Linked DNA regions of Homo sapiens: region 1 is linked to region 2. Evidence: fine-mapped expression QTL. A gene starts in region 2. The other region holds a variant in brackets. All regions are shown on one strand. Distances are between the middles of the regions. Region 1 holds the start of LOC112543491 (linc-UFC1). Region 2 holds the start of B4GALT3 (beta-1,4-galactosyltransferase 3).

What was found. PIP is the estimated chance that this variant, and not a neighbour inherited with it, causes the effect.
Region 1: its variant is fine-mapped to the expression of B4GALT3 in whole blood (INTERVAL, PIP 0.98).

What each region holds. Positions count from the first base shown.
Region 1 is chr1:161,133,181-161,150,020 of GRCh38, forward strand. It overlaps LOC112543491 (linc-UFC1), which reads left to right and starts at 1,970. Exons shown (of 1, transcript NR_156734.1): 1 at 1,970-4,762. LOC124900457 (small nucleolar RNA ACA64) reads right to left here and starts at 8,156; the gene lies at 8,028-8,156. The variant CA/C (reference allele first, on the strand shown) is at 8,440.
Region 2 is chr1:161,174,041-161,186,613 of GRCh38, forward strand. B4GALT3 (beta-1,4-galactosyltransferase 3) reads right to left here and starts at 3,467. Exons shown (of 8, transcript NM_003779.4): 1 at 3,383-3,467; 2 at 2,394-2,539; 3 at 1,768-2,034; 4 at 953-1,188; 5 at 1-9. The coding sequence starts at 2,020. It overlaps ADAMTS4 (ADAM metallopeptidase with thrombospondin type 1 motif 4), which reads right to left. Exons shown (of 9, transcript NM_005099.6): 9 at 10,262-12,573. It also overlaps a transcript of PPOX not described here. RefSeq lists silencers at 2,238-2,287, 3,127-3,176, 3,387-3,556 and enhancers at 3,155-3,654, 4,793-5,294, 8,325-8,384, 10,709-10,908, 11,679-11,728.

The DNA of each region.
Region 1 (16,840 bases), 39 kb before region 2:
TCGGAATTCATTTGTTCAGCATTTACCTTTTGAACGCCGGTTTCCTGTAGGAAGTGTCGCCTAGCTGATCCGTGTAGGGCTGTTGGGAATTGGGGGTGGGGAGGATGGTGCGGGTACGTTCTGGTGTGGCTTAAGAAAGTGGTAATAGATAGGGGAAGACCAGATTATGCGAAGCCTTGTAAATTAATTGATTTTTATCCTTAAGGCAATGAAAAGTCTTTGAAGAATCTCAGCAGAGGTGTGAACAATTTCATTTGCATTTTAGATCGCTGCGTGCAGTGTGAAGGATGAATGAATTGAGGAGAATCAAGGAGAGCAGTTGTGAGGCTCTTTTCCAGGCAAGGATGATGATGGTCTGCCTGTGGAAGGGAGAGTGCGGATGGGGAGATACAGATTGGTTTAAGAGGTACGAATGTTGTGACTTGGACAACTGGGGAATAATGATACCAGTTTCTTTCTCGTTTAGGGGGGAGATAATGAGTTTTAGGTGCCCCTGGGATATTAGCTAATGTGGGTTGGGAACTCAAAAGAAAGGTTTGAGGTGTGTGTGCGTGTGCATATAGATAGCTGTTGAAGCCATGAAGTGGGCTGGAGAGGATACCTGCATTTGCGGGATAGGATGAGGGAAGCCGAAAAGAACACTGAGAAGGGGCAAACCGAAAGGAAAGAAGAAAACCATAGAGAACTATCAAGGAAACTGGTGAAAGCGTTTAGTGTAACAGAGATATAGTAAAATGCTAACTAAAATATATACATCAGGGCCGGGCATGGTGACTCACACCTGTAATCCTAGCTTTGGGAGGCCGAGGCGGGTGGATCACTTGAGGCCAGGAGTTCGAGACCAGCCTGACCAACATGGTGAAACCCTGTCTCTTCTAAAAATACAAAAAAAATTAGATGGGTGTGGTTGCACATGCCGGTAATCCCAGCTACTTGGGAGGCTGAAGCATGAGAATTGCTTGAACCCAGGAGGCAGAGGTTGCAGTGAGCCGAGATCGCGCCACTGCATTTCAGCCTGGGCACCAGAGCAAGACCCTGTCTCAAAAAAAATGAAATAAATAGGCCGGGTGCTGTGGCTCACTCCTGTAATCCCAGCACTTTGGGAGGCCATGGCGGGCAGATCACCTGATGTCAGGAGCTGGAGACCAGCCTGGTCAACATGGTGAAACCCCGTCTCTACTAAAAATACAAAAATCAGCCAGGCATGGCAGTGCGCGCCTGTAGTCCCAGCTACTGGGGAGGCTGAGGCACAAGAATCGCTTGAACCCAGGAGGCAGAGGTTGCAGTGAGCTGAGGTCGTGCCACTGCACTCCAGCCTGGGTGACAGAGTGAGACTCTGTCTCCAAAAAAATAAAATAAAGTAAATAAAATGTATCTATCAGATATTGCAACAAGGGCCAGGCACAGTGGCTCACACCTGTAATCCCAGCACTTTGGGAAGCCTAGGCAGGTGAATCACTTAAGACCAGGAGCTGGAGACCAGTGTGGTCAACATGGCAAGACCCCATCTTTACAAAAAATACAAAAATTAGCTGGGCATGGTGGTGCGCACCTGTGATCGCAGGTACTCCAGAGGCTGAAACATGATAATCACTTGAACCCAGGAGGCGGAGGTTGCAGTGAGTCAAGATTGCACCACTGCACTCTCGGCAACAGAACAAGACTTTGGTTTTTTTGTAAATAAAACAAATAAATAAAAAGGCCAGGTGTGGTAGCTCACACCTGTAATCCCAGCACTTTGGGGACCGAGGTGGGCCGATCACCTGAGGTCAGGAGTTCGAGACCAGCCTGGACAACATGGTGGAACTCCCATCTCTACTAAAAATACACAAATTAGCCAGACATGGTGTCGGGCACCTGTAATCCCAGCTACTTGGGAGGCTGAGGTGGGAGAATCGCTTGAACCCAGGAGGCGGAGGTACAGTGAGCCGAAATTGCACAATTGCACTCCAGTGAGACTCTGTCCCCCCAAAAAAGATACTGCAACAAGGAGGTCATTTAGGAAATTTGGAGAAAGCTGTTTTGTAGTTATGGTGGATAGAAACCAGATTGAATTGAGAAGGCACAACGTATAAAGACAGTTTTTTCATGGTGTTGATGTAAAAAGGAGACTAGTGGTAGGGTGTTGCAGGAGGGAGAATTCCAAAGAAGGTGAAGAAGTTTTAGGTACCTGTGAGATAGCTAGATAGATATGTCCTAGTGGCATGTTTAATACACAGATCTAAAACTTAAGAGAAAAATATAAGTGGAGAAAAAAAGCAAGCACAGAATAAATATGACACATTTACACATGCATTAAAAAATTATGAAGAGTGGGCCTAGGAGGGATAAGACTTATACTTTTCATTTTACATCTATCTTTATTGCTTGAAATTATTTTATTATGCACATATTATTTTACAGAAAGCTACTTTTTTTTTTTCTTTTTTGAGACAGTCTCGCTCTGTCACCCAGGCTGGAGTGCAGTGGCACATCTCAGCTCATTGCAACCTCTGATTCCCAGGTTCAAGCAATTCTCCTGCCTCAGCCTCTTGAGTAGCTGGGACTACAGGTGCACGCCACCATGCCTGGCTAATTTTTTGTATTTTTAGTAGAGACGGGGTTTCGTTATGTTGGCCAGGCTGGTCTCAAACTCTTGACCTCGTGATCCACTCTCCTCGGCCTCCTAAAGTGCTGGGATTACAGGCGTGAGCCATGGTACCTGGCCAGAAAACTACTTTTTAGAAAGCCCTGTGATATATAGGCCAGAAATTCTGAAACATCAACATTTCGGTGGTAGTTGAAGCCATAGATTTGGATAAGCTCCCCAGAAAAGAGCAGAGGGCTAAGAAGAGTGCTCTCGGAAATTCCAACATTTAAGGCACAAGTAGAAAAAGAGCTCTTGGAGAATCTTTGAAAAGGAACAGCGAGTGAAGAAGAAGAAAACCTGGGAGATAATTGTCACAGAATCAAAGGGAAGAGTATTTCAAGGGGGTGGATGTTGAAAGTGTCAGATGTCCCCACAGAGGCAGCTGATAGGAAAGGTGCTCTTACCTCTGAACCTAGGTTTCTTGGAAGCTTGGCACAAGAGTCAAATCCAGATCTTGAACCTTTCCCCAAGTATCACTGGGCAGTACAACCCCCAGGCTATTCTGCCCTTATGCATCATGGCTGCCAGTCCCAGTCTTTCAGTGAGTCTTCAAGTCAACACCAGCCAGTGCTGGCACCATCAATCTTACTACACTTAATAATGATACCCTGGCTGGGTGTGGTGGCTCACACCTGTAATCCCAATACTTTGGCCAGGAGTTCAAGATCAGCCTGGGCAACATAGTGAGAGACCCCATTTCTACAAAATTTTTTTTTAATTAGGTGGGTGTGCACTTGCCTGTAGTCCCAGCTATTTGGGAGGCTGAGGTGGGAGGATCACCTGAGACTGAGGAGTTTGAGGTTGCAGTGAGTCCTGATGGCACCATTGCACTCCAACCTGAGTGACATAGCGAGACCCTGTTTCAAAAAAAAAGAAGAAGAATGCTACCCTCTCCCAGTCCTTACTATGGCCCTGAAGCTGCCATCAACAAAAACCTGTTTTTCTAGAAATGGTGAAATTAAGGAATTGAAAGTGGGAGTATTCGTTGGAGTTGGAGGTCAGGAACTAACTGTATTTTTCATGGGTTTTTGTAAAACCTCCCAGGATGATAGTAAGAGTTGGCACAAAAAGAGGTTAATAGGTGCTGAAGGCTGGGTTTGGAGGATCACTTGAGCCCAGGAGTTTGAGGCTGCAGTGAGCTATGATTATTGCCACTGCACTACAAAAAGAAAAAGAAAAAAAAAAGGTGTTAAAGGGCAGTAAAGCCAGATGGCATAAGCTTCAAAGGGAGAAGAATTTTTGCAAGAGGATGGAAGCACAGTGGTCTAAAAGTAGCAGTGGGTAGCAAAGAGAAAGCTGATACCTTGCCACGCCTTCCTACAGGAGCAAGAATAAACAGCCTGTAGAAGGTTGAAGGGAAAAGGTGTTCATTAATTGGGGAAAGTAAAAAATTTCTACCTCACCTCTGACCATTTTTTCCTCTATACCCACTGGAACACTTTTCTTTTGTAAACAATCTCCCTTATGTATTCATTGTCTTCGTAGATTGCTCCTTAGCTTTTCCTAGAGGAATAGCCATCAGGACAGAGGTAGCTGTGATGTGTGGAATGCAGATGTAATCCACATAAGCCCGCAAAAAAGACAGACACAGGCACTACTTCTTAAAGGAGAATAATATTCTCCCTCCGTATCCATATTCTGAAGTGGTTTGACACTCAGTAGTCTTGGCACCATGATGGTAATTCCTTTCCATGAACCCACCTCTCCTCTCCAAACCTAACCCAATTCCATTCAGAGGATTAGAGAAAGCTGAGGATTGCCTTTTCTAGTCATAGTATGATGTCCAGTCTGCTTATTGCAACCAATGGGGAAGAGAACAGATCACTTTCTTCACTGAGAATGGAAAGCTTAGCCAGGCACGGTGGCTCATGCCTGTAATCCCAGCACTTTGGGAGGCTGAGGCAGGAGGATCACTTGAGGTCAGGAGTTCGAGACCAGCCTGGCCAACATGTTGAAACGCCATCTCTACTAAAAAATAAACAAATTAGCTGGGTGTGGTGGCATGCACTTGTAATCCCAGCTACTCGGGAGTCTGAGGCAGGAGAATTGCTTGAACCTGAGAGGTGGAAGTTGCAGTAAGCCAAGATCACGCCACTGTACTCCAGCCTGGGCAACAGAATTGAACTCTGTCTCAAAAAAAAAGAATGGAAAGGTGAAGGAAGGGCTGAGATTTGCCTTCATTAGGCCTTCCAAAGTAATCTGTCTTCCCCTGCAGGACTCACAGAACTCAGTTCTTTTCCCTGGGGCCAGACTTCAATGACCAAATTTTCCAAATTCCAAACATTGGGACAGTTGCCTGGCCAGCTGTTCCTAAACTAGTCAGTTTATTTGGAGGGATATTTTCTGCTTGGGGAGCCCTGGAAGTTCACTCTTTCAACATGAAGTCCTAAGATCGTAACGCCAACAAAGAGAGCTGTGCAGATTTCCTGAGCTAAGCCAAAGGGACCTCCTGTGTAGAGATGGGCACCCTCATGTCCATCACTGAGAAAAAAATATTTCAAACAGTTTAGAGTTTTTTGTTAGCTATAGCTAGACTGCTGTTCCTCCTTAGCTTAAACTATACATCATCTGTACAGTTAAAACAAAAACTTCATCTCTTGCCTTATGAACCACCCTCTCCTTAATTCAACTAAAAACTTGGGGGAACTTCCTCTGAGAAGATTGAGAACCCTGTGTAGAATTCTCTTGCGGAAGTCCTCTGCTTGTTATGTTTCTTCCTTTACATTAGTTCCTGTCTCTTCCTCAGCTGAGAAAACATCCCTCCAGCTTTCAAAGACTGGCCCCTTCAGCTCTATCCTGATGCCCATCCTTTTCTACTTATCAAAACACTACTCCCACAGTTACCTCTTCCTTCACTGGAATCTGTAACCTGGAACCCTTCAGCTATCCACAGGCTCACATTTCCACTGTGTCCTTAACTGTAGTTTTCAACTCCCTGTAATTCTCAGTAATTAGAAAGGCCTTTTTACTATCCTTAGATAAATCTCTTTGTAACTTCCATGTATTGGTTCTGTTTTTTCTCTCTGGGTCAACACATCATAGCCACATGTCCCTACTAAATATTTTTTTACAAGTCAGTGGTAGTACCAGTTTAGAGTAAAGCAGATCTGTTCTCTTTCTTGATCTGAATACTCTATTAAGGCTGCTTGTCCTAGTCCATGTTCCTTCCCAGGTCTGCCAGATTAATCTTTTCAAACCAGATATTCCCTTAAGAAGTCTCTATCTTGCTAGCACTAGCCCCTTGTCACAAGTATCCTCTTGACTCTTCCAGGGCCACTCGGATCCCTGTGTCCCTACCAGGGCTTTACTCTTCTGCTTTACTCTGCAGGGACTTGCTGACCTGATGATCTGCTCTATTCTTGGTTTCCTATTAACTCTAAGCTGCCCCAGTTACTCATTTTCATCCAGGCATTATACTACTGGCTCCTCCTAATTTCAGTTCAGCTTGGAACCTAGCTCTAAGTCCAGAACTAGAATTTATTGCAGTTCTGGCTTCTATGGCTCCCGAATAAAAGAGTAGGGACCTCGGCCACACATGGTGGCTCATACCTGCAGTCCCAGGACTTTGAGAGGCTGAGGCGGGTGGATTGCTTGAGTCCAGGAGTTCAAGACCAGCCTGGGTAACATGGCCAAACCCTGTCTCTACAGAAAAAAATACAAAAATTAGGCATGGTGGCATGTGCTTATAGTTCCAGCTACTCAGAAGGCTGAGGTGGAAGGATCACTTGAGCCTGGAAAGCCGAGGTTGCAGTGAGCCAAGATCGCACCACTGCACTCCAACCTGGGTGACAGAGCCAGACCCTGCTGCCTCAAAAAAAAAAAAGAAAAAGAAAAAAGGAGTAGGGACCACAATCAGTTGCTGAATCCTAGTGATCTGCTGTTCAAGTCGCCTCAACCTGTTCCCTTTTCTTCATTCCCCAGCTCTGACCCTCACTAATATGACAGGCAAGTTCCTTAACTTCTCTAAACTTGTTTTCTTATCTGTGAAAGAAATATAACATCCACCTTACAGATCATTGTTTTAATGATTATATTAAATGATGTATAGAAAGTGTTGCACAGGGCCTAGTGCTGGATAAATGTTACCTAATATTTATTATTGTATTATATATAACAAGTTTCACCAGGTTTCAGAAATTCAGCAGGCTCTTTATCAATGACTCTTTGCTGCCCCCATGGGGATGACTTTTTCCAAGTCATTGGTTATTCCAAAGACCGTAACATAAAACAACCCTGTCTCACCAATCCCACCAGTTAATTAGAGAATTAACCAATTTTTCTTTGGGTGGTTGTTCAATTAAGTAAAAATGCTCTTATATTCCAGACCATTCTTTTTCAAATAACATAACAGGCTGGGCGTGGTGGTTCATGCCTATAATTGCAGCACTTTGGGAGGCCAAGGCAGGTGGATCTCTTGAGGTCAGGAGTTCGAGACCAGCCTGACCAACATGGTGAAACCCCGTCTCTACTAAAAATACAAAAATTAGCCGGGTGTGGTGGCCCGTGCCTGTAATCCTAGCTACTCAGGAGGCTGAGGCAGGAGAATCATTTGAACCCGGGAGGCAGAGGTTGCAGTGAGCTGAGATTGTGCCACCGCACTACAGCCTGGGTGATAGAGCGAGACTCCGTCTCAAAAAAAAATTTTTTTTTAAATAAATAAATAACAATAGGCCGGGCGCAGTGGCTAACGCCTGTAACCCCAGCACTTTGGGAGGCCGAGGCGGGCAGATCACGAGGTCAGGTGATCGAGACCATCCTGGCTAACAAGGTGAAACCCCATCTCTACTAAAAACACAAAAATTAGCGGGGCGTGGTGGCGGGCGCCTGTAGTCCCAGCTACTCAGGAGGCTGAGGCAGGAGAATGGCATGAACCCAGGAGGCAGAGCTTGCAGTGAGCCGAGATCGCACAACTGCACTCCAGCCTGGGCAACAGAGCAAGACTCTGTCTCAAAAATAAATAAATTAAATAAATAAATAAATAAACAATAATAAGGTTATCAAAAGGTTGAAAGTAAAATTATAGGAAAAGATAAGCTATGCAACATAAACCAAAAGAAGCTTATGTTAAAATCAGACACAGTTGACTTGAAGGCAAAAAGCATTACTAGAAATAAGGACATTTTATACCAATAAGTTTAATTCACCAGGAAGTTAAAAAATAAATTTATTTATTTATTTATTTATTTATTTATTTATTTATTTATTTTAGACAAACAGCTTTATTTGAAAGACGGGGGACAGCCAAGTCCCCCTGACCCTGCGGTCCTGGCAACGTCGGTCTCAGGCGTAGGAGGACCAGTGTCCTGCGGAGAGAAAAATAGGGTTAGGGGTCTGCAGCCGGGGTCAGGAGTCAGGGGTCAGACCACGCGAGCAGCCACACCCGGGGGGAGGCCGCGGCCCCTGTCGGGGCCTGGGTTTCACCGTCGCACATGGCGGCAGCACGCGGTGAGCTGAGGCCCCCGGAGGCTCTTGCGCGCCGAATTTCACCCGCGGCCACGGCCAAAACCGGGGGTGATTTTCAACCAACGCCGGAAAACATTTCTAAATTTGTATGCACTTAACAAAACCTCAAATAATATACAGCACCGAGCTACAAGGAAAAATAGACAAGTTCACAATCATCGTAGGAGATTTAGCACACCTCTCTCAATTAATAGAGTATACTTCTTTCAGAACTGATAGAAAAAGTCAGGGCCAGGTGCAGTAGCTGATGCCTGTAATCCCAGCACTTTGGGAGGCTGAGATGGGAGGATTGCATGAGGCCGGAGTTCAAGACCAGCCTGGGCAGCATAGGGAGACCCTCATTTCTA[CA/C]AAAAAAAAAAAAATTAGGGGCGGGCGCGGTGGGTCACGCCTGTAATTCCCAACACTTTGGGAGGCCGGGGCGGGCCTGAGTTCAGGAATTCGAGACCAGCCTGGCCAACATGGCGAAACCCCGTCTCTACTAAAAGTACAAAAATTAGCTGGGTGTGGTGGCGGGCACCTGTAATCCCAGCTACTCAGGAGGCTGAGGCAGGAGAATAGCTTAAACCCGGGAGGCGGAGGTTGCAGTGAGCCAAGATCGCGCCACTGCTCTCTAGCATGGGTGACAAGAGCAAGACTCCGTCTCAAAAAAAAAAAAAAAATATGCTGAGCATGGTTGTGCATGCCTATAGTCCCAGCTACCCAGGAGGCTGAGGTGGGACGATTACATGACCCCAGGAGGTTGAGGCTGCAGTGAGCTATGATGGCACCACTGTACTTCAACCTGAGAGACAAAATGAGACCAACTCTTTCTCTAAAAAAAAAAAAAAAAAAAAAGAGAAAGAATAAGAAAAAATCAGCAAGGATATAGAAAATTTAAATAACACGAGCAGTAAATTTGATTCAACAAGCGTATAGAGTCCACTATACCCAACGACTTCAAATTACAAAGCACATGTTCAAGCACATTTGGAACATTTAAGAAACTGACCAGATTGTTCTATAAAGCAAGTTTCAACAAATTTCAAAGGCTTCAAATGATGCAAAGTATGTTTCTTGCCTACATTACAGTGAGGCTAGAATCAGTAACAAAAAGGTAACTGGGAAGTCCCTATGTTTACAAGTTAAATACAGCCGGGCACAATGACACATGCCTGCAGTCCCAGCTACTTGGAGGCCAGAGGATCCCTTGATTCCAGGAGTTTAAGGCTGTAGTGTGCTGAATACATTTTTAAATGACCCACAAAATAAATCACAATTGGAGTTAGAAAATATTTTGACCTGAGTGATAATTTAAAATGTCACAAAGCATTCCGGGCACCATGGCTCAAACCTTTAATCCCAGCACTTTGGGAGACTGAGGCAGGTGGATTGCTTGAGGTCAGGAGTTGGAGACTAGCCTGACCAAATGGTGAAACCCCATCTCTACTAAAAATACAAAAACTTAGCCGGGCGTGGTGGTGGGCACCTGTAGTCCCAGCTACTCAGGAGGCTGAGGCGAGATAGTCACTTGAACCTGGGAGGTGGAAGTTTCAGTGAGCCGAGATTGCGCCACTGCACTCCAGCCTGGGTGACAGAGCGAGATTCTGTCTTAAAAAAAAAGAAAGAAAGAAAGAAAAAAGGGCCGGGCGCGGTGGCTCACGCCTGTTAATCCCAGCACTTTGGGAGGCCAAGGTGGGCAGATCACAAGGTAAGGAGTTTGAGACCAGCCTGACCAACATGGTGAAACCCTGTCTCTACTAAAAATACAAAAATTAGCCGGGTATGGTGGCGTGTGCCTGTAATCCCAGCTGCTCGGGAGGCTGGGGCAGGAGAATCGCTTGAACCCAGGAGGCAGAGGTTGCAGTGAGCGAAGGTCATGCCACTGCACTCCAGCTTGGGCGACAGAGTGAGACTCTGTCTCAAAAAAAAAAAAGAAAAAAGAAAAAAAAGAAAAGAAAAAAATGTGCTTAGAGGAAAATACATAGTCTTAAGAGCACATAAGAAAAAAGAGCCTGGATGTGGTGGCTTACACTTGTAATCTCAGTGCTTTGGAAGGCCAAGGAAGAAGGATTGCCTGAGGCCAGGAGTTTGAGACCAGCCTGGGCCACATAGGGAGACCCCTGTCTCTTTTAAAATAAGTAAGTTAATAAATAAATAAAAATTTTAGGATGAAAGAAAAGCTGAGAATTTGTGAGTTCTGCATCCATCTCAAGAACCTAGAACAGTGAATTACACTGAAAGGATTTAGAAGATTGGAAATGTGTACATAGAGATGTCTGGAAGAATATATACCTAAAATGATAGTGGCTTTTTAAAATCTCTTGGGGTGGTATTTTTGGGTTAATTTTATTTTTCTCTATTGTTCAAATAAGCTAAAACAAATAATAAAGCCATTGTAATTTTTGGGGGTAAAAACACTAATGGAAATTTTTTTTTTTCTAGACTGAGTCTCGCTCTGTCACCCACGCTGGAGTACAGTGGCACAATCTCAGCTCACTGCAACCTCTGCCTCCCAGATTCAAACGATTCTCCTGCCTCAGCCTCCCGAGTAGCCGGGACTACTGGCACCTGCCACCACACCCGGCTAATTTTTGTATTTTCAGTAGAGACGGGGTTTTACCATGTTGGCCAGGCTGGTCTCGAACTCCAGACTTCAAGTGATCTGTCTGCCTTGGCCTCCCAATGTGCTGGGATTACAGGCATAAGCCACCGCGCTGGGCCTGAGGAAAATTTTTAAAAAATAATCGAGACTGCTGTTATGGTGACACCACCACGAGAAGCTACAAGCAAAATACTGATAACCTCATATGTGAAAATTTTTCATATTGTTTAAAATATTATGAACAAAAGAAAAGACAAATAACAAACTGGGAAAAATATTTACAACTCATCACAAATGGCTAATCCTTTTAATGTTAATATTTAAAAAAAAATACAAATCAGGTCAGGCACAGTGGCTCATGCCTGTAATCCCAGTACTTTGGGAGGCTGAGGTGAGAGGATCACCTGAAGTCAGGAGTTCAAAACCAGCCTGGCCAACACGGAGAAACCTGTCTCCATTAAAAATACAAAAAGTAGCCGGACGTGGTGTGGGCACCTGTAATCCCAACTACTCGGGAGGCTGAGGCAGGAGAATCGCTTGAACCCGGGAGGTGGAGGTTGCAGTGAGCTGAGATTGCACCACTGCACTCCAGCCTGGGCGACAGAGCAAGAATCTGTCTAAAAAAAAAAAAAAAAAAAAAAAAAAAAAAAAAAAAAAAAAGGCTGGGTGCAGTGGCTCACACCTGTAATCCCAGCACTTTGGGAGGCCCAGGCAGGTGGATCACGAGGTCAGGAGATGGAGACCATCCTGGCCAACATAGTGAAACCCTGTCTCTACTGAAAATACAAAAATTAGCTAGGCGTGGTGGCAGGCGCCTGTAGTCCCAGCTACTCAGGAGGCTGAGGCAGGAGAATCGCTTGAACCTGGGAGGCGGAGGTTGCAGTGAGCTGAGATTGTGCCACTGTACTCCAGCCTGGGCAACAGAGCGAGACTCCATCTCAAAAAAAAGAAAAAGAAAAAAAAGACGGGGCATGGTGGCTCATGCCTGTAGCACTCCCAAATCCCAGCACTTTGGAGGCCAAGGCGGGTGGATCACCTGAGGTCGGGAGTTCGAGACCAGCCTGACCAACATGGAGAAACCCTGTCACTGCTAAAAATACAAAATTAACTGGGCGTGGTGGTGCATGCCTGTAATCCCAGCTACTCAGTAGGCTGAGGCAGGAGAATCGCTTGAACCCAGGAGGCAGAGGTTGCGGTGAGCTGAGATCGCGCCATTGCACTCCAGCCTGGGCAACAAGAGTGAAACTCCATCTCAAAAAAAAGCAAATCAGTAAGAAAAATGAATAATAGGCCGGGCGCAGCGACTCACGCCTGTAATCCCAGCACTTTGGGAGGCCGAGGTGGGCGGATCACAAGGTCAGGAGATCGAGACTATTCTGGCTAACGCGGTGAAACCCCGTCTCTACTAAAAGTACAAAAAATTACCCAGTCGTGGTGGCGGGCGCCTATAGTCCCAGCTACTCGTGAGGCTGAGGCAGGAGAATGGTGTGAACCCAGGAGGCGGAGCTTGCAGTGAGCCGAGATCGCGCCACTGCACTCCAGCCTGGGCAACAGTGCAAGACTCCATCTCAAAAAAAAAAAAAAAAGAAAAGAAAAGAAAAATGAATAATAATTTAAAAGGGGGAAAGGAGGTAAGACTTTACAGAACAGAGCTGGGTGTAGCATGCACCTCTATGTAGCTGCTTGAGAGGCTGGGTCCCTTTGAGCCAAGGAGTTCGAGACCAGCCTGGGCAACATAAGGAGATTCTATCTCTAAAATAAATGAATAATAATGAAATATTGTACAGAACAGGAAATACAAATGGAGACTAAACATCTGAAAAGATAGTAGGCCAGGTGCAGTGGCTCATGCCTGTAATCTCAGCACTTTGGGAGGCTGAGGTGGGCAGATTGCTTGAGCTCAGGAGTTCGAGACCAGCCTGGGCAACGTGGCATGAAACTCCGTCTCTACAAAAATATACAAAAATTAGCTGAGCATGGTGGCATGTGCCTGCTGTAGTCCCAGCTACTCGGGAGGCTGAGGTGAAAGGATCACTTGAGCCCAGGAGGCAGAGGTTTCAGTGAGCTGAGATTGCACCACTGCACTCCATCCTGGGTGACAAGAGCAAAACTCTGAAACATAGGTTTCACCGTATATTCTTTTGTCCTTTTTAAATTTGGGGCAAGTGCATGTATTATCTATTCAGAAGTAAATATTTTAAAATCAAATGTATGTAAAAGTTTGTTCGCATTTTATCATATTTGTGCTTTCCCTGCTCTCTCCTTGCCTGCATGTTTAATGTATTCATCCTAAGAGTTCCAGTTCAAAGGCCATCAGCCATATCTGATTCTCTCAGGCATAGTTACTCAGACAGTACTTTGTATATCTCCAGAATAGGGATTTCTTTTTATTATTATTATTATTATTATACTTTAAGTTTTAGGGTACATGTGCACAATATGCAGGTTAGTTACATATGTATACATGTGCCATGCTGATGTGCTGCACCCACTAACTCATCATCTAGCATTAGGTATATCTCCCAATGCTATCCCTCCCCCCTCCCCCTGGGATTTCTTATTTTATGGTAATTGTCACCATATTAGTTTCTCCTACCCAAAGAGGAGGTAGAGATGAAGTCCCATTAATGGTTAAACGCAAAGTCTGTAGTTCCAGAATCCCTAAGGGTGATACCAATACCACAGAAGGTGCTGCACATACCTCAGCCCATTCAAGGGAGGGGGGGTTTAGAGTCCCTGCAGTTCTACTGTGCTTAATGGAGAACCACCAGGCTCTCCTTGTGTTTTCAGAAACAGGTTCATTATTGATCACTGTCTGCCATTTAGGGCCATCAATAGCCCCCTGCTACTGCTCCTAATCGCTCAGATCCCTGCTGCTAATTTTATATTGGCCTAGCGATGGTAGAAAGGTATATCAATTGGTTAAGTGTGTGACTTCTAGAGCCAGGCTGTGCTTGGATTGAATTCCAGGTCTCTACCATTTAATTGCTGTGTGATAGGGCTTTCTTTCATTCAACTTGTACTTCAATTTCTTCACGTGTAAATGAGGATAATGAGAGAACCCACCCCAGGGTTATAACCAGAAATAAAGGAGCTGATGTTTGTAAAATGTTTAGGACAGTGCCAAACACATAATAAGCACCGTATAAATGTTAGCTTAATATTATAATTCTTTTTACCAAGTGATTCTAAGTGTGAACCCAGTTTCTCATAGCATAAGAGACCAAGCTACAATTTACCATAATTCTTTGTTGAAGTCTCCAGGATAATTAAAGGTAATAACAAAAGAGAATAACTTCCAAAACTTACTGTCCATCTACACTAATCTTCTATAACGTGGCTTCCTCCCTATAGCAGAGCTATCATTTCTTTCACCGTTCTGAGTTATTTTCCAGCATATTAGAGTCCAGACCAATGCCTTAAAGAACAGAGGAGCCGGGTACAGTGGCTCACACCTGTAATCCCAGCACTTTGGGAGGCCGAGGCGGGTGGATCACAAGCTCAGGAGATCGAGACCATCCTGGCTAACACGGTGAAACCCCGTCTCTACTAAAAATACAAAAAATTAGCTGGGCGTGGTGGCAGGTGCCTGTAGTCTCAGCTACTCAGGAGGCTGAGACAGGAGAATGGCGTGAACCTGGGAGGCAGAGGTTGCAGTGAGCCGAGATCATGCCACTGCACTCCAGCCTGGGCAACAGAGCGAGACTCTGTCTCACGAAAAAATAAAAAATAGAGAACAGAGGAAAAGCTTCCTCTTTTTTCCCTAATCCAAGATTTATTTCTCTAATCCAGTATTCACTTCTCTTTCTGTCCCAGGAGCTGCCTTTTCCCATGATGACAGACAGTGGGGCTTTCAACTACCTTCAGGGGTTCTCCGATGCACCCAACTGTCCTATTGCATTGCCTACATTTCCTAGAATTGAGCTATTTAATCAATCCTTTTCTATTCTTTTTTTTTTTTTTTTGAGATAGAATGTTGCTCTGTTGCTGAGGCTGGAGTGCAGTAGTGCGATCTCACCTCACTAAAACCTCTGCCTCCTGGGTTCAAGCAATTCACCTGCCTCAGCCTCCAAGTAGCCGGGACTACAGGCACACACCACCACACCCTGCTAATTTTTTGTATTTTAGTAGAGATGGGGTTTCACCATGTTGCCCAGGCTGATCTCAAACTCCTGAGCTCAGGCAATCCACCCACCTCGGTCTCCCAAAGTGCTAGGATCACAGGCGTGAGCCACCACGCCTGGCTGAATTCCTTTTTATAACTATTTAAGGATAATTTCCATGAGGACAGGGAGCCCACCTGCCTATGCACTACTGTATTTCCAATGCCTGGAACATATTAGGAACTCCATAAACATTTGCTCATGAATGAGTTCTTCCTCTGAAAAACAGTGAGGCTCAGGCCTACATACTCTTCCTTATTATTTTTTTTTTTTGAGACGGAGTCTCGCTCTGTCGCCCAGGCTGGAGTGCAGTGGCGCGATCTCAGCTCACTGCAGGCTCCGCCCCCCGGGGTTCACGTCATTCTCCTGCCTCAGCCTCCGAGTAGCTGGGACTACACACTTTTTTTTTTTTTTTTCAGAGATGGAGTCTCTCTCTGTCGCCCAGCCCGGAGTGCAGTGGCGAGATCTCGGCTCACTGCAAGCTCCGCCTCCCGGGTTCACGCCATTCTCCTGCCTCAGCCTCCCAAGTAGCTGGGACTACAGGCGCCCGCCACCACGCCCGGCTAATTTTTTTGTATTTTTAGTAGAGACGGGGTTTCACCATGTTAGCCAGGATGGTCTCGATCACCTGACCTCGTGATCTGCCAGCCTCGGCCTCCCAAAGTGCTGGGATTACAGGCGTGAGCCACCGCGCCCAGCCCCAGTCTTCTCAATTTTAGTTTCTTGTCTCATGTGAGCATTACTTAATAGTAAGTTAAATCCATAGTTTAAACATTTCTCTAAAAGAGGCATGTCCTACTGAGATGCAACTATGCCTATAATAGAGGCAGGCCTATGTTTATAACAGAGACAGTGCTTTGTATTATCATACATTATTATGTGCTATGCTTTACTAAATGGTTTAATAAGGTGATTTTCCGGCCCGGTGCGGTGGCTCAAGCCTGTAATCCCAGCACTTTGGGAGGCCAAGGCGGAAGGATCACTTGAGGTCAGGAGTTCGAGACCAGCCTGGACAATATGGTAAAACCCGTCTCTACTAAAAATACAAAAATTAACTGGGTGTGGTGGTAGGCCCCTGTAATCCCAGCTACTGGGGAGGCTGAGGCAGGAGAATTGCTTGAACGCAGGAGGCGGGGGTTGCAGTGAGCCGAGATTCAGCCATTGCACTCCAGGCTGGGCATCAAGAGTGAAACTCTGTCTCAAGGAAAAAAAATAAAAATTAAAAATGGGGTGGTTTTCCAAAACTATGAAACAAAAACAACATGCAGCTTTATAAAGACAATTTTTCTGGTGCTTACTTTATGTATCAAGATACTCATTGATGTTAAAAATATTGATTGAACATTTAATCTGTGGCAGACGCTATATTAGGTTTTAGAAGCACAGCATTGAACAAGATAGATACACAATCCCTACCCTGATTGAGCTTCCAGGCTATCAAGACAATTATACAATTAATAAAGTGTGATGAGTAGTTACCATAGAAGTATTCTCAGGGATAGAGGTCTTCTGCCTGCACTTGAACAAGAGCAGCGCTATATTGATTATAATTTGGGACTCCAGGTAAGATTTTGTTTGTAAACCTGGCTTCACTACCATATAAAAGTTTGAATACTGCCATTTATTTATCTGAATTTCATCCTAACAGCCTATTATGTAAATGAATGGCCATTGCGTATATAGTTATAACTATATAAGCTTTTTTTTTTTAAATTGAGACAGAGTCTTCCTCTGTCACCCAGGCCGGAATGCAGTGGTTCAATCACGGCTCATTGCAGCCTTGACCTCCCAGGCTCAAGTCATCCTCCCATCTCAACTTCCCAAGTAGATGGGGACACAGGTGCACGCCACCACGTCCAGCTAATTTTTAAACTTTTTGTGGAGACGGGGTCTCTCTGTTTTGCCCAAGCTGGTCTCGAACTTGTGTGCTCAAGAAATCCTCCTCCCTTAGTCTCCCAAAGTGTTGGGATTATAGGTGTCAGCCACCATGCCCAGCCTTATAAG
Region 2 (12,573 bases):
ATTTCCAGCCTGGAAGATAATGGAGGGGAACCAGACTATGTCTGTAGGTGGCACGGAGAAAAGGGGGCTAAAGAATAAAAGTGAAGGCCGGGCGCGGTGGCTTACGCCTGTAATCCCAGTACTTTGGGAGGCCAAGGCAGGCAGATCACAAGGTCAGGAGATTGAGACCACCCTGGCTAACACGGTAAAACCCCATCTCTACTAAAAATACAAAAAATTAGCTGGGCATGGTGGTACACGCCTGTAGTCCCAGCTACTCAGGAGGCTGAGGCAGGAGAATGGCGTAAAACCCGGGAGGTGGAGCTTGCAGTCAGCCGAGATCGTGCCACTGCACTCCAGCCTGGGGGACAGAGTGAGATCTCAAAAAAAAAAAAAAAGAAAAAAAAGAATAAAAGTGAAAAGAGGGAAATCAAAGTGGGGTGGAGGGCAAGGAGAATGAAAAAGAAAGACTATCTTTTTCATTTTTCCACTTAGTCATTTGACAAATCTTGCTTGTGTATTGGTATGGACCTGATACTTAAGATGCTGCTGTCTAACATTTAATCCTGACAATTGGCAACCAACAATGGTGTGGTGTGGAACAGATGGTATATTAGTTATCTTATGCTCTTTCCTCATGTTAGATGTTTAAGTATCTTGCTCAGAGTCATACATGTAACAAGTGACGGAACTAGAATTTTAGCCCTATTGTGTCCAATTCCAACTCTGCACAAGCCATTCAATAAAGAAAAAATCACAGGAGAGTGTAGGACAGTGGGAATAACCTAAGCAGATTAAGGAAAAGTATGGGACTAACAAAGTTGGAAGAGCAGTGCCGGGTGCTTCTCCACACTCTAACAGTCTGGCCTTCTTAAAATTATTCTAGGGACCCATTTAGATGAAAGTGAAGTGGCATGTGCTTGAGGCTTCCTTAGAAGAAAGTCAGTCAAAATGAGGTGGAGATTGGGGGTACCTGGTGGATGACATAGATGCCATAAGCAAGCTGCTGGCGCTGCAAGAAGGGGTGCAGGTGGTAGAGCAGCAGGCGCAGGTGGTGCTCCCGGGCACGATGAGGCACAATGATGGCTGTTCGGGAGCGGGGCTCACAACCTGCAGGGCGGTACCGGCCCCCTGGTTCTACCCGGGGATTCCGCTCCACAATCTCTGCCAGTGATGGCACTGGGCTAAAGGACACCGACACAGGACCCACTGTTGGGAAGGAATGGCAAGTAGAGGGATCAGAGGGGCAAAGAGAAAAGAATCAAACTAGGGTTTGGGAATACCTCTGACACTGGCAGTCTGGTTCTGGGGCTTAGTTCTCAGGGCTCACTCAGAAATCTCGCATGCCTTGGATTACCTATCACTGGGACAGCTCTACAAAGGCTGGAAGGTGCAGGATCCTTACCTAGCCTTCTCTTCTTATTTTAGGGTTGCCTAACTTTCTCCTGTCTTACAGGGTTGGAAGCTATAGTTGAAGGCTGGAGAGACTTGCAACTAATTAAACCAGGGCTCATCTACAAGGAAAACAATTCCTAGCCTGGGGCAGGAAGAGCCCATAAAGGGACAAGCAGTAGAAAGTGGAAACCCAATAGTCTAATCTAAACTCCCAATTCAGAGTCTACTCTATCTCAACCTCAGCCCTCTATCTCAACCTCAGCCTACCTGCAGCCTCAGCCTACCTATCCTCTTCTAAGTTCCACTTCTGCCACTCCATGCCTCCCTATCCCCAAGCCTCCCTGTCTCCGCACCTTGTCCTTCCTTTCACCACCTCCTTCCTCCTGCACTTACCTAAGAGAGGAGATCGTTCTGGACAGTAGGGCAGACCTTGAGGAGCTGGAGGACCCCCTGGGGCCCCAGGCAGGTGACTGAGGTTACTGTAGACATCACGAGGGTGAGAATAGTCAAATGTCGGTCCCTGATCTCGGCCAAATAGGGCACTGAGACTTCGGAAGCCCCCCAGTGACAGGTACATCATGACAGCCAGCTGGGAGCCCACAAGCAGGGCCAGCGTGCAAGGCCGCTCCAGCAGCCTCCGCAACATCCTGGGGGTGAGATCTAGGGAGGGAGAGGGGAATTCTGGGGGTAGGCAGGAAGAGAGCAAGCCAGCAGAGAGGTCAGTAGGTAGGGTTGAAGGTGATGCCAGGGGTAAAGAGGAAAAAGCAGAAAACAAAGTCACAGAAGGGAGCACACAGGTGCACAGTCACGCAAGGAAACAGAATGTAACCACCAGTAACCCTACCACCTGTCACTTCAGCCCAAGTTTCGCTCTCCTCTACCTCCCCCCAAACCACTCCCACCATCTACTGTCAGTCCTCACCCCCAAAAATGTTTACATCATTCAAATCTCATGTTCATTTCAGAAAGTCTCTAGAGAACCCCCTCTTCCAATTTTAGAAGGGAAGAGATAGACTCACCTAGGTTCAAGCTGTCTTCTTAGGGATCATGGGGGCTCCAGGGGGTCCCGGGGGGACAGAGATGTGAGGCATTATCTAAAATTGGAAATGTCACAGAGGGCAGAGAAAGGCTCCATCCAGCACTCCAGCAGCGAATCTGGGACCAGCTGGAACAGAAGTGGTAAAGGATAACTAGCTACCTGCACCGCCAGAGATCAGGATCAGGGTGAAGCTGGTTTCCCAGCAGGCGAAGTGAAGGAAAGTGGTTGGAAAGGAAGAGGAGGAGCAGGAGATGGTAGGTCCCTCGCCTATCTCCCGTGCTACCCTGGAATGATAAGTGTCAGGTTCATACTTAACCACCCCCGTACCCCCACCCCAACAGGACAGATTGGGGAGTGGGGACAGGACAGCTAATGGAAACATTGTTTTCCCCCAGACCAAGAACCAGTTGAAGTGGCGACAGAGTCATGACAGGACCGTGGAGTGGCCTAAGGAGTACCCAGGGCGAAGTAGGAAACAGGCTCCTTCTATTCTTCATGTGCCTGGGTGCCAACTCCTCAGGTGCAGGGACCGTGACCACCTGGGGGCTGTAAGCGAACAGCCCCGGAGCTCGGCGGAGAGTAGGGTGGGGGTGGCGTCCTCTACCTTTTCTACCTTTCCCCTCTTCTAGCGGGGGTGGGGAGGAGGGTTACTGCTGAAGAGAAAGGGAGAGGGAGAGCAGGGGCAGAGACAGTCAGGGGTGGCTGGAAGGGCTCACCTAGAGGGGCGTGGTCCGCGCTGTGGAGGGGGTTAAAACCCAGCTCTTTCGGAGCACGCCCATCCTATCCCAGTCTCTTGCTTTTGCCCTACCTACTAGCAACGTGAGCCCGCCCGGCCCCCGTCCATACTTCCACCTAGGACCCCGTCCCTGCTCAGGCTCGTCTCCAGGCGTTACCCAAAACTTCTCACTCTCTCGAATGCCCAAACCTTTATCCCAGGCCTCCGTGTCGACGCATTCCCAGCGCACATACCTGGTCTTTTGCTGCCTGTCGTCACCGCCACCCCAACAGCCGGGCAGGCATCGCTGCCGCCATCTTGGAAGCGGGCGCTGCGGGGGCGGGGTCTCGCGTCATGGGGCGGGGCCTCGGGGCGGAGCCACCCGGGCTGACTAGGCACCCGGTCCCAGACACCGCGTGGCCGGGGGCTTGTGAGGGAGCAGCGCCTGAGCCTGCCCACCTGGAACGCGTTGTAGGCGACCCCCTGGGGAGCGGGTGCTAGGGTTCAACTCCACTACGCAGACTGCTAGTGGGATTTCATTTCCTGCCCCTCAGATTTGTAAAAGCAGAAGCTCAAGCCCTTCATTTTCCTCTGGGCCGAGACTGATCAGGAGGCTAGTGAGCCGGTTTCTGGTGCTCCGCTGACCTCGTTATCACCTTGTGGTTGGCTGAGCCCTCTCCCAGTGTGTCAGTGGCACCCCCTGCAGCCTAGTGCCACTTAGTATCAATTGTTCCTTACGCAGGCTACAGCGTTGCGGACCGCTCTAGCGCATTTTTGTATTCCCGTTGTATCCCGCAGGCCTGGAAATAAAAAGCGATTAGTTAATAAAACAATGAAACATTGAAGGTGGAGGGAAAGACAGCGTCTTCTTTAAAGTCAAATGATGTTTCCCCAGATATTAGAGTAAAATGGATGCTCCGTTAACATGCAATATGTTTACCTTACGACAAACACTACCGCCTAGCATATTGTGTTCCTTAGAAGCAGATATTCACGCTGAAGAAGCAATCAGAGACTTGAATAACTCACAGAATCTGCCCCAAAAAGCCCATGGTCTTGTGTATCTTGTATGGAGGGAGGGATGTAAACAATATAACGTGATAAATATGCTGGCCTAGAAGTGGCAACTCATTCATACGTGGAGATTCTAGAAAGGCTTCCCAGAAGTGATGGCTAATGGGAAACCTGAAGGACTTGTCTATAGCATATCCTTCTGCTTTAAAGATTCTGTTTTCATGGGAGTTATTTTACAATTCATGTAGGTAACTGATCTGTATGCAAATTCTATCCTGTCTGGTAGAGGTTCAATTAACCTGCTGTTCCCCACACTGTGGGGAAAAAAAGCAGTTTTGGCGTCCATTTTCATATTCATTTCTGTTTTCCTGATCCATAAATATGTCCGTTCTCTAGATTTTCTCTTGTATTAATTATAACATCTGCTAGTTTCTTCATGAGTTAGGTAAAATAAACACGTGTTCATTCTTTTCTTAATTTCTTTTTTCTTTACTTTTTTTTTTTTTTTTTGAGAGGGAGTCTCCCTCCTGTTGCCCAGGCTGGAGTGCAATGGCGCTATCTCGGCTCACCGCGACCTCTGCCTCAGCCTTCCTCAGTAGCTGGGATTACAGGCATGCGCCACCACACCCGGCTAATTTTGTATGTTTAGTAGAGACAGGGTTTCTCTGTGTTGGTCAGGCTGGTCTGGAACTCCCGACCTCAGGTGATCCACCCGCCTCGGCCTCCCAAAGTGCTGGGATTACAGGTGTGAGCCACCACGCCCGGCCTTTTTGTTTACTTTTTTTTTTTTAATTTAAAAATTTGTGACAGGGTCTCACTCTGTCACCCAGGCTGGAGTGCAGTGGCAAGATCACAGCTCACTGCAGCCTCAACCTCCTAGGCTCAAGGGATCCTCCCACCTCAGACCCGTGAGTAGCTGAGTAGCTGGGACAACAGCACATCCAGCTAATTGTATTTTTTGAAGACACAGAGTTTTACCATGTTGTCCAGGTTGGTCTCCAACTCCTGGGCTCAAACTATCTGCCCACCTTGGCTTCCCAAAGCGCTGGGATTACAGGCGTCAGCCACAGCATCAGGCCTCTTAATTTTATTTCTCTTTTTCCTTCCTTCCTTCCTTCCTTCCTTCCTTCCTTCCTTCCTTCCTTCCTTCCTTCCCTTCTTCCTCCCTCCCTCCCTTCGTCCCTTCCCTTCCCTTCCTTCTTTTTTTTCCTTTCCTTTCCTTTTTTTTTTTCCCAAATACCCAGTCTTCAAGGAGAATTTTTTTTTTTTTGAGTCGGAGTCTTGCTTTGTCACCCAAGCTAGAGTGCAGTGGTGCGATCTGAGCTCACTGCAACCTCCGCCTCCCGGATTCAAGCGATTCTCCTGCCTCAGCCTACCGAGTAGTTGGGATTACAGGCTCCCGCCACCAAACCCGGCTAATTTTTGTATTTTAGTGGAGACGGGATTTCACCATCTTGGCCAGGCTGGTCTTGAACTCCTGACCTCATGATCCACCTACCTTAGCCTCCCAAAGTGCTGGGATTATAGGCATGAGCCACTGCACCCGGCCTATGTGTTCATTTTTATGTTGGTATTGACAAAGACCATCTCCTTAACCAGACTTTCAACAGGCTCCTCTAAGGCCTCTTTTTGGCTAGGTCTTGTCCTTATGCGCTGTCTTGGGCCTGCCTAGCCAGTTATAGCAAGAATCCTGCCAAGTCAGTTTAGGGATAATTCCCTGCCCGCTTCTCCACCCTTGATAGCTGATCTATCTGATCACCCTCACCTGCCTTCAGGAAAGATCCTGTTAGGTCAGTTTAGCAAGAATCCTCCTAGCCTTAATGTAATTTTCCTTCCATCCACTGACTCTGATTCTGCTCATTGACTATTGCAATAGTCTTCCTTACTGTTTTAACAAGTGTCAGAATAATTTTTTCTTCAACAGTTTAAGGGTCATAATTTTACCTTCTTCTGAAAATTACCTTTTTTTTTTTTTTTTGAGACAGAGTTTTGCTCTTGTTGCCCAGGCTGGAGTGCAATGGCACCATCTTGGCTCACCGCAACCTCCGCCTCCTGGGTTCAGCCAATTCTCCTGCCTCAGCCTCCCGAGTAGCTGGGATTACAGGCATGCGCCACCACACCCAGCTAGAAAATTAACTTTTAACAGATGAATAGTGTTCCAAGCAGAGGAAACCATAAGTGCAAAATTCTGGAAATGAGGAAGAAATTAGGGAGTTTGGGAAATTAAAACTGGGCCCGCAAGGCTGGACAGTAGAGTGAAGGGAATGTTGAGATATGAGACTGGAGAGGTAAGCAAATGCCAAATAATGAAGGACTCCACAAACCATGCTAAAAGAGTTTGGGTCTTATCCAGAGGGCAAGAAGAAGGCATTAAAGTGCTGTAAATAGAGAGTGCTATGATCAGAACTTTAGGAAATGTGGAGCACTAATTGAAGTAGTCAAGACCAGAGGCAGGGAGACTATTTAGAAAGTTACTGCAGAAATCCAGGAATAAGATGAAGCTCATGCAGAATAGGTAATACCCGTGGGACTGGAGGGAAGAAAGTAACTTTGGGAACTTTCAGGAGGCAAACAGGACTTGAAGATTGACTGGATGTGCCAAGTTAGGGAATTGGACTCCAAGAGGACACCCAGATTTCTAATTTGGACCACTGGGTGGTGCCATTTAATGAGAAACAAAACTTAGGAAGAAGCACATTTTGGGGAAGGGGTAGAGATGACAAACTTTAGACATAATGAGTTTGAGGTGCCTGTGAAGGCTCAAAATGAGATAATGCTGGGTTTAAATACAATACCAACTTTGAAACCCATTGGCTGTGTACTGAGCAATACACTCTGGATTTCATCTGTAAAATGAACTCTAGCCTTAAGGGGTTTTGTGATCATTAGAACTATGGAAAACTTTTGAGCACAAATAGAAGCCAAGACAAAGCCTTGATTTTTTTTATTATAATTTTTTTTTTTTGAAGAGACAGTCTCACTATGTTGCCCAGGCTGGTCTCAAACTCCTGGGTTGAAGTGATCCTCCCGCTATGGCCTCCCAAACTTGATTTTTTGTTTGTTTTACTTTTATTATTTTTTATTATTATTTTTAGCTTCTGATATAGTATAACTCAAAAAGCCTTGATTTTTTAAGAATATCACTGTGTAGTGGAAAAGACAGACTTAAACAGATCATTGAAATGTGGTTCTTGGCCTGGCATCATGGCTCACGCCTGTAATCCCAACACTTTGGGAGGCCCAGTTAGGTGGATCAGTTGAGTTCAGGAGTTTAAGATCAGCCTGGGCAATATGGCAAAATTCCCTTCCAAGAAAAATACAAAAATTAGCTGGGCATGGTGGCTCACAGCTGTAGTTCCAGCTACTCACAGGGCTGAGGTGGGAGGATCACTTGAACCCAGGAGTTCAAGGCTGCAGTGAGCTGATTGCACCACTGCACTACTCCAGCCTGAGTGATAGAGCCAGATTCTGTCTCAAAGAAGAAAGAAAGAGAGAAAGAGAGAAAATGTGGTTCTCCCAGAGGACCCTTCCTTTGAGCCTCTGTTCCTCCATCGCGTTCTGTCTTACAGGACTGACCCTCACTTTCTTTTTTTTTTTTGGGATGGAGTTTCTCTCTTGTTGCCCAGGCTGGAGTGCAACAGCATGATCTGCAGCTCACCGCAACCTCCGCCTCCTGGGTTCAAGTAACTCTCCTGCCTCAGCCTCCCAAGTAGCTGGGATTACAGGCATGTGCTACCACGCCCGGCTAATTTTGTATTTTTAGTAGAGACGGGGTTTCTCCATGTTGGTCAGGGTGGTCTCAAACTGCTAACCTCAGGTGATCTGCCCACCTCGGCCTCCCAAAGTGGTGGGATTACAGGCTTGAGCCACCGCGCCCAGCCTTCACTTTCTGTCTCCTTCTGTATCTAACCATCTTCTTTTTTAGAGTCAGAGACTCACTCTGTCACCCAGGCTGGAGTGCAATGGCATGATTATAGCCCACTGCAGCCTTGAACTCCTGGGTTAAGGTGATCCTCCTGCCTCAACCTCTCAAGTAGCTAGGACTACAGGTGTGTACCTAGCTAATTTAGTTTTTTGTGGAGACGGAGTCTCACTCTGTTGCCCAGGCTGGTCTTGAATTCCTGGCCTCAAGTGAGCCTCCTGTGAGCCACCACAAAGGCCTATCTACTATCTTCTGGCCATTCCTTTACATTAATTTGTAAGCTCCCTGTTTTCAAGAACCTTCCCTTCTGCTCTGTCTCACCCTGGCCACACCCTGGACTTAGTCATCACCTAGAACTGTTATGTTTCTGAAAACTTAAATTTTAACATGCTGGTTTCCACCACAACATCCTGTCTTTCAATATTCTGAATAAATCCTGGGGCCCACACTGGCCCAGTCATGGCACATAACACAATAGAAGAAACCCAGTTTAGTAATCAAAAACTAATTTAAATCTCTACTTAATTTCTCAAGGAAATATCAGAGACAGGGGAAAGGGGCAGTGGATTAGGAGCACATTTTAATGGACAGCCCAATGTCTTTAAAATCCTCTGTCTCGGCCGAGCGCAGAGACTCATGCCTGTAATCCCAGCGCTTTGGGAGGCCGAGGCAGGTGGATCACCTGAGGTCAGGAGTTCGAGACCAGCCTGACCAACATGGTGAAACCCTGTCTCTACTAAAAATACAAAAATTAGCCGGGTGTGGCAGCACACGCTTGTAATTCCAGCTACTCGGGAGGCTGAGACAAGAGAATTGCTTAAACCTGGGAGGTGGAGATGGCGCCACTGCACTCCAGCCTGGAAAACAGAGGGAGACTCTGTTGCAAAAAAAAAAAATATTCCTCTCCCTCTTCCATTCAACATTTTCTACTTGGATGTTATTTCTTCCCAAAACTATCCCTTCCAACTCCCCTCAGCCTACACTGTTGTTCCAGATCTCTCTCCCACTCAGCTCTTTCTCTTACCATATTATCCTCCAGTTTCTGGTTTTCTGGTCTGTTCTCTTTACCTCTTTACCTCACTTTGGTTTTGTATAACATAGAAGAACCTGAACCTGACCTAGCAAACAGAAATCATGCCCCCCTGACACCCTCCCACCATCCATGGGTTCCCTGCAGTCTTACAGCTTTCTTTTTTTTTTTTGGAAACAAGTTCTCATTCTGTCACCCAGGCTGGAGTGCAGTGGCACAATCACAGCTCACTGCAGCCTCCACCTCCTGAGTTTAAGTGATCCTCCCACCTCAGCCCCCACCCCATTCCCTGAGTAGCTAGGACTACAGGCGTGCACAAGCACACCTGGCTAATTTTTTTTTTTTTTTTTTTTTTTTTTTTTTTTTTGAGATGGAGTCTTGCTCTGATGCCCAGGCTAGAGTGCAGTGGCATGATCTTGGCTCACTGCCACCTTTGTCTCCCAGGTTCAAGCAATTCTTCTGCCTCAGCCTCCCAAGTAGCTGGGATTACAGGTGCCCACCACCGTGCTGGCTAAATTTTGTATTTTTAGTAGCTATGGGGTTTCATCTTCTATCTACTAGGCTGGTCTCGAACTCCTGGTCTGGTCTCGAACCAGAGACCAGATTCTCAAACCAGGCTGATCTTGAACTCTGACCTCATGATCCACCTGCCTTGGCCTCCCAAAGTGCTGGGATTACAGGCATGAGCCACTGCACCCTGCCTTTTTTTGTATTTTTTGTAGAGACCAGGTTTCATCATGTCCCCCAGGCTGGTCTTGAACTTCTGGCCTCAAGTGATCCTCCCACCTTGGCCTCCCAAAGTGCTGGGACTACAGGTATGGGTCACTGTGCCCAGCCTTACTGCTCACTTCTAGAAGGAGAGACAGGCACCTCCTCCAGAAACACTTCTGTGGCCTCATATTCTGTGCTAGGTGCCCCTCCTTGATCATGGCACCTATCACAGAAGTCTGAAATTTTTGTCCTACTTGACTGTCTCAGCCACCAGATTGTGAACTCTGAGGATTAGGACCATGTCTTTCCTTTTATCATCCCTTCAATGTAAGCCAGAACTTTTTGCACAAATTTACAAAATGGCCCTTAGATCTGACCTAGACAGTTCCTTGATATAACTGTTTTCTCACGTGAATGCAGGGGTTAGAAGTCAGGGAGCAGACAAAGGAAGAGATATAAGGAAAGGAGAACTGGCCTTTATTGACCACTTACTAAAAGCCAGACACAGTGCCAAACATTTACATCATCATATTCTTAAGTCTGGACCTCTCTATAAGGCAGGTAATAGTACAAACGTTTTGTAGGTAAGGAAACTGAGGTTTACAGAGATCAAGTAATTAAGGTTGCATCATTACAGGTAAGTAAGTAGCAAGGCTTAGATTCAATTTGACTCCAAAAATCCATGTCCTTTCCACATGCTGTGGAATGTTTACAATGTTTACAACCCATTGGCTTATTTATTGAACAAATAAATGGGATAAACAGTCAATTCTCAATGCACGATTAGGTCAATTAATATCTTTTACTCTTCAGATCCATTTTCAGGTGAAAATTCTTACATTTTCCGCTCCCTACTACTTATTTGCATCTATATTATCAACAGAATGTGTTGGCCAGGCACCCTGGCTCACACCTGTAATCCCAGCACTTTGGGAGGCCGAGGCAGGCAGATCACTTGAGCCCGGGAGTTCAAGACCAGCCTGGGCAACATGGAAAACCCCGTCTCTATACTAAAAATACAAAAAATTAGCTGGGCATGGTGGTGCATACCTGTAATCCCAGCTACTTGGCAGGCTGAGGCAGGAGAATCACTTGAACCTGGGAGGTGGAGGTTGCAGTGAGCCGAGATCACGCCATTGCACTCTAGCCTGGGTGACAGAATGAGAATCTGTCTTAAGAAAAAAAAGAAGAAAAAGAAAGGCAGGGGGGGAGGGGGGAGGGATAGCATTAGGAGATATACCTAATGCTAAATGATGAGTTAATGGGTGCAGCACACCAGCATGGCACATGTATACATATGTAACTAACCTGCACATTGTGCACATGTACCCTAAAACTTAAAGTATAATAATAATAAAATAAATTTTAAAAAAAAGAGAGAATGTGCTAGTGTGTCTCTGTGAAGTTGGATGTGTGTTATGTCAATGTGTCACTGTTGGTGTGGGTGTATGGTGCCTGTTTGTTGTGCCAAGACTGTGAGGGATACTTAATCTACTTCCTCCCCTCCCTTTCCTTCCTAATGCTACTTAAGTACCCTGGGTCTGTCCCCATGTAAGATCCTGCCTGGGGAAGTTGTTCAGTGTTGTTGCTCCCCCGCCTTCCCTGACCCCCCTCTTTCTGAGCATTTTTAGCACTCGTGGTTTCCTCCAGCTGTCATCTGGTTTCTCGTGGTGCCAATGATTTTGGCTTGGCCCCAGCAACAGTCAATGGGGAAGGTACTCAATTGGTTCAGAAACATCCTCTCAGCCAATAAAATGTTAATACATTGAAATCCACTTTCTTCTCCCTTCCTCCCCCACAAGCCCTGACCAATGAGATGCTAGTTTTGTCACTTACTGCCAATCTGGTATTTTAGAAAACAAAATACTGTAATACTGTATGAAGATTACAGAAATGAGACTAGAGATGGAAGAGAAGTGTAAATGCCGATTCCACAGCACACTCCAGGAACCCTGGCTGTCCCACCTCCATTACAAAAATAGTGGCTGGACAAATGTCCAGATTTCCTCTGTTTGAACCACAGAAGCAGAGAATCTCAGGGGCAGAAGGGACTTTAGGAAATTGGCCCAACTTATTGCTTCAACTTCCTCCCCCACCTCAAACACATACTCATGCACAACACTTGCCATCTCATAAAATGGTTGTCCAAACTCTTCTTGAACTTCTCTAGGGACAGGGTTCTAATCCCTTGTCATTCAATGCCTTTTCTTTTTCCATTTCCTCTTTTCATCTCCAGGACCAGATACTTGAATTGTTTCAGTGCCTCCTTACTTCCTGTTATTACTGTTTCTGTTCCTCCTTATATATCTACACCCCAGCTCAGGCCCACGAGGGCAATAAGTAGGCAGATGGGAAACAGAGCTCACTGTGGCTCTTACAGGGAGATATGTGCCCCCCCACAATCCCATCCCTAGCAAGAACTTGTTGGACTCCTATTAGGTAAAGCCTACCTACAATCTGGGTCTTGGAGGTGTGGTAAGGCAGAGACCATTCCAGAAAAGGGTCAGGCCTTGCCTGGGATTGAGGGCTGAGATGCCCATCACTTCTCTTCGATGAGCTAGCTCTCTCTGCCCCTCTTTCACTCTAGCTCCTGCTTACTTACCCAATCACAGAGGTGGCCCCTAAGCTCAGTCTCATTTTCAGAAAAACTTACTTATGCCAGTGAGAACCCTACTTGGTGAGCGAAGGGCTTTCTCTTAAAATAACAGGCAGAAAAGTGATTTAAAAGTGAATCTACACCTGTAGTCCAAGCTACTTAGGAGGCTGAG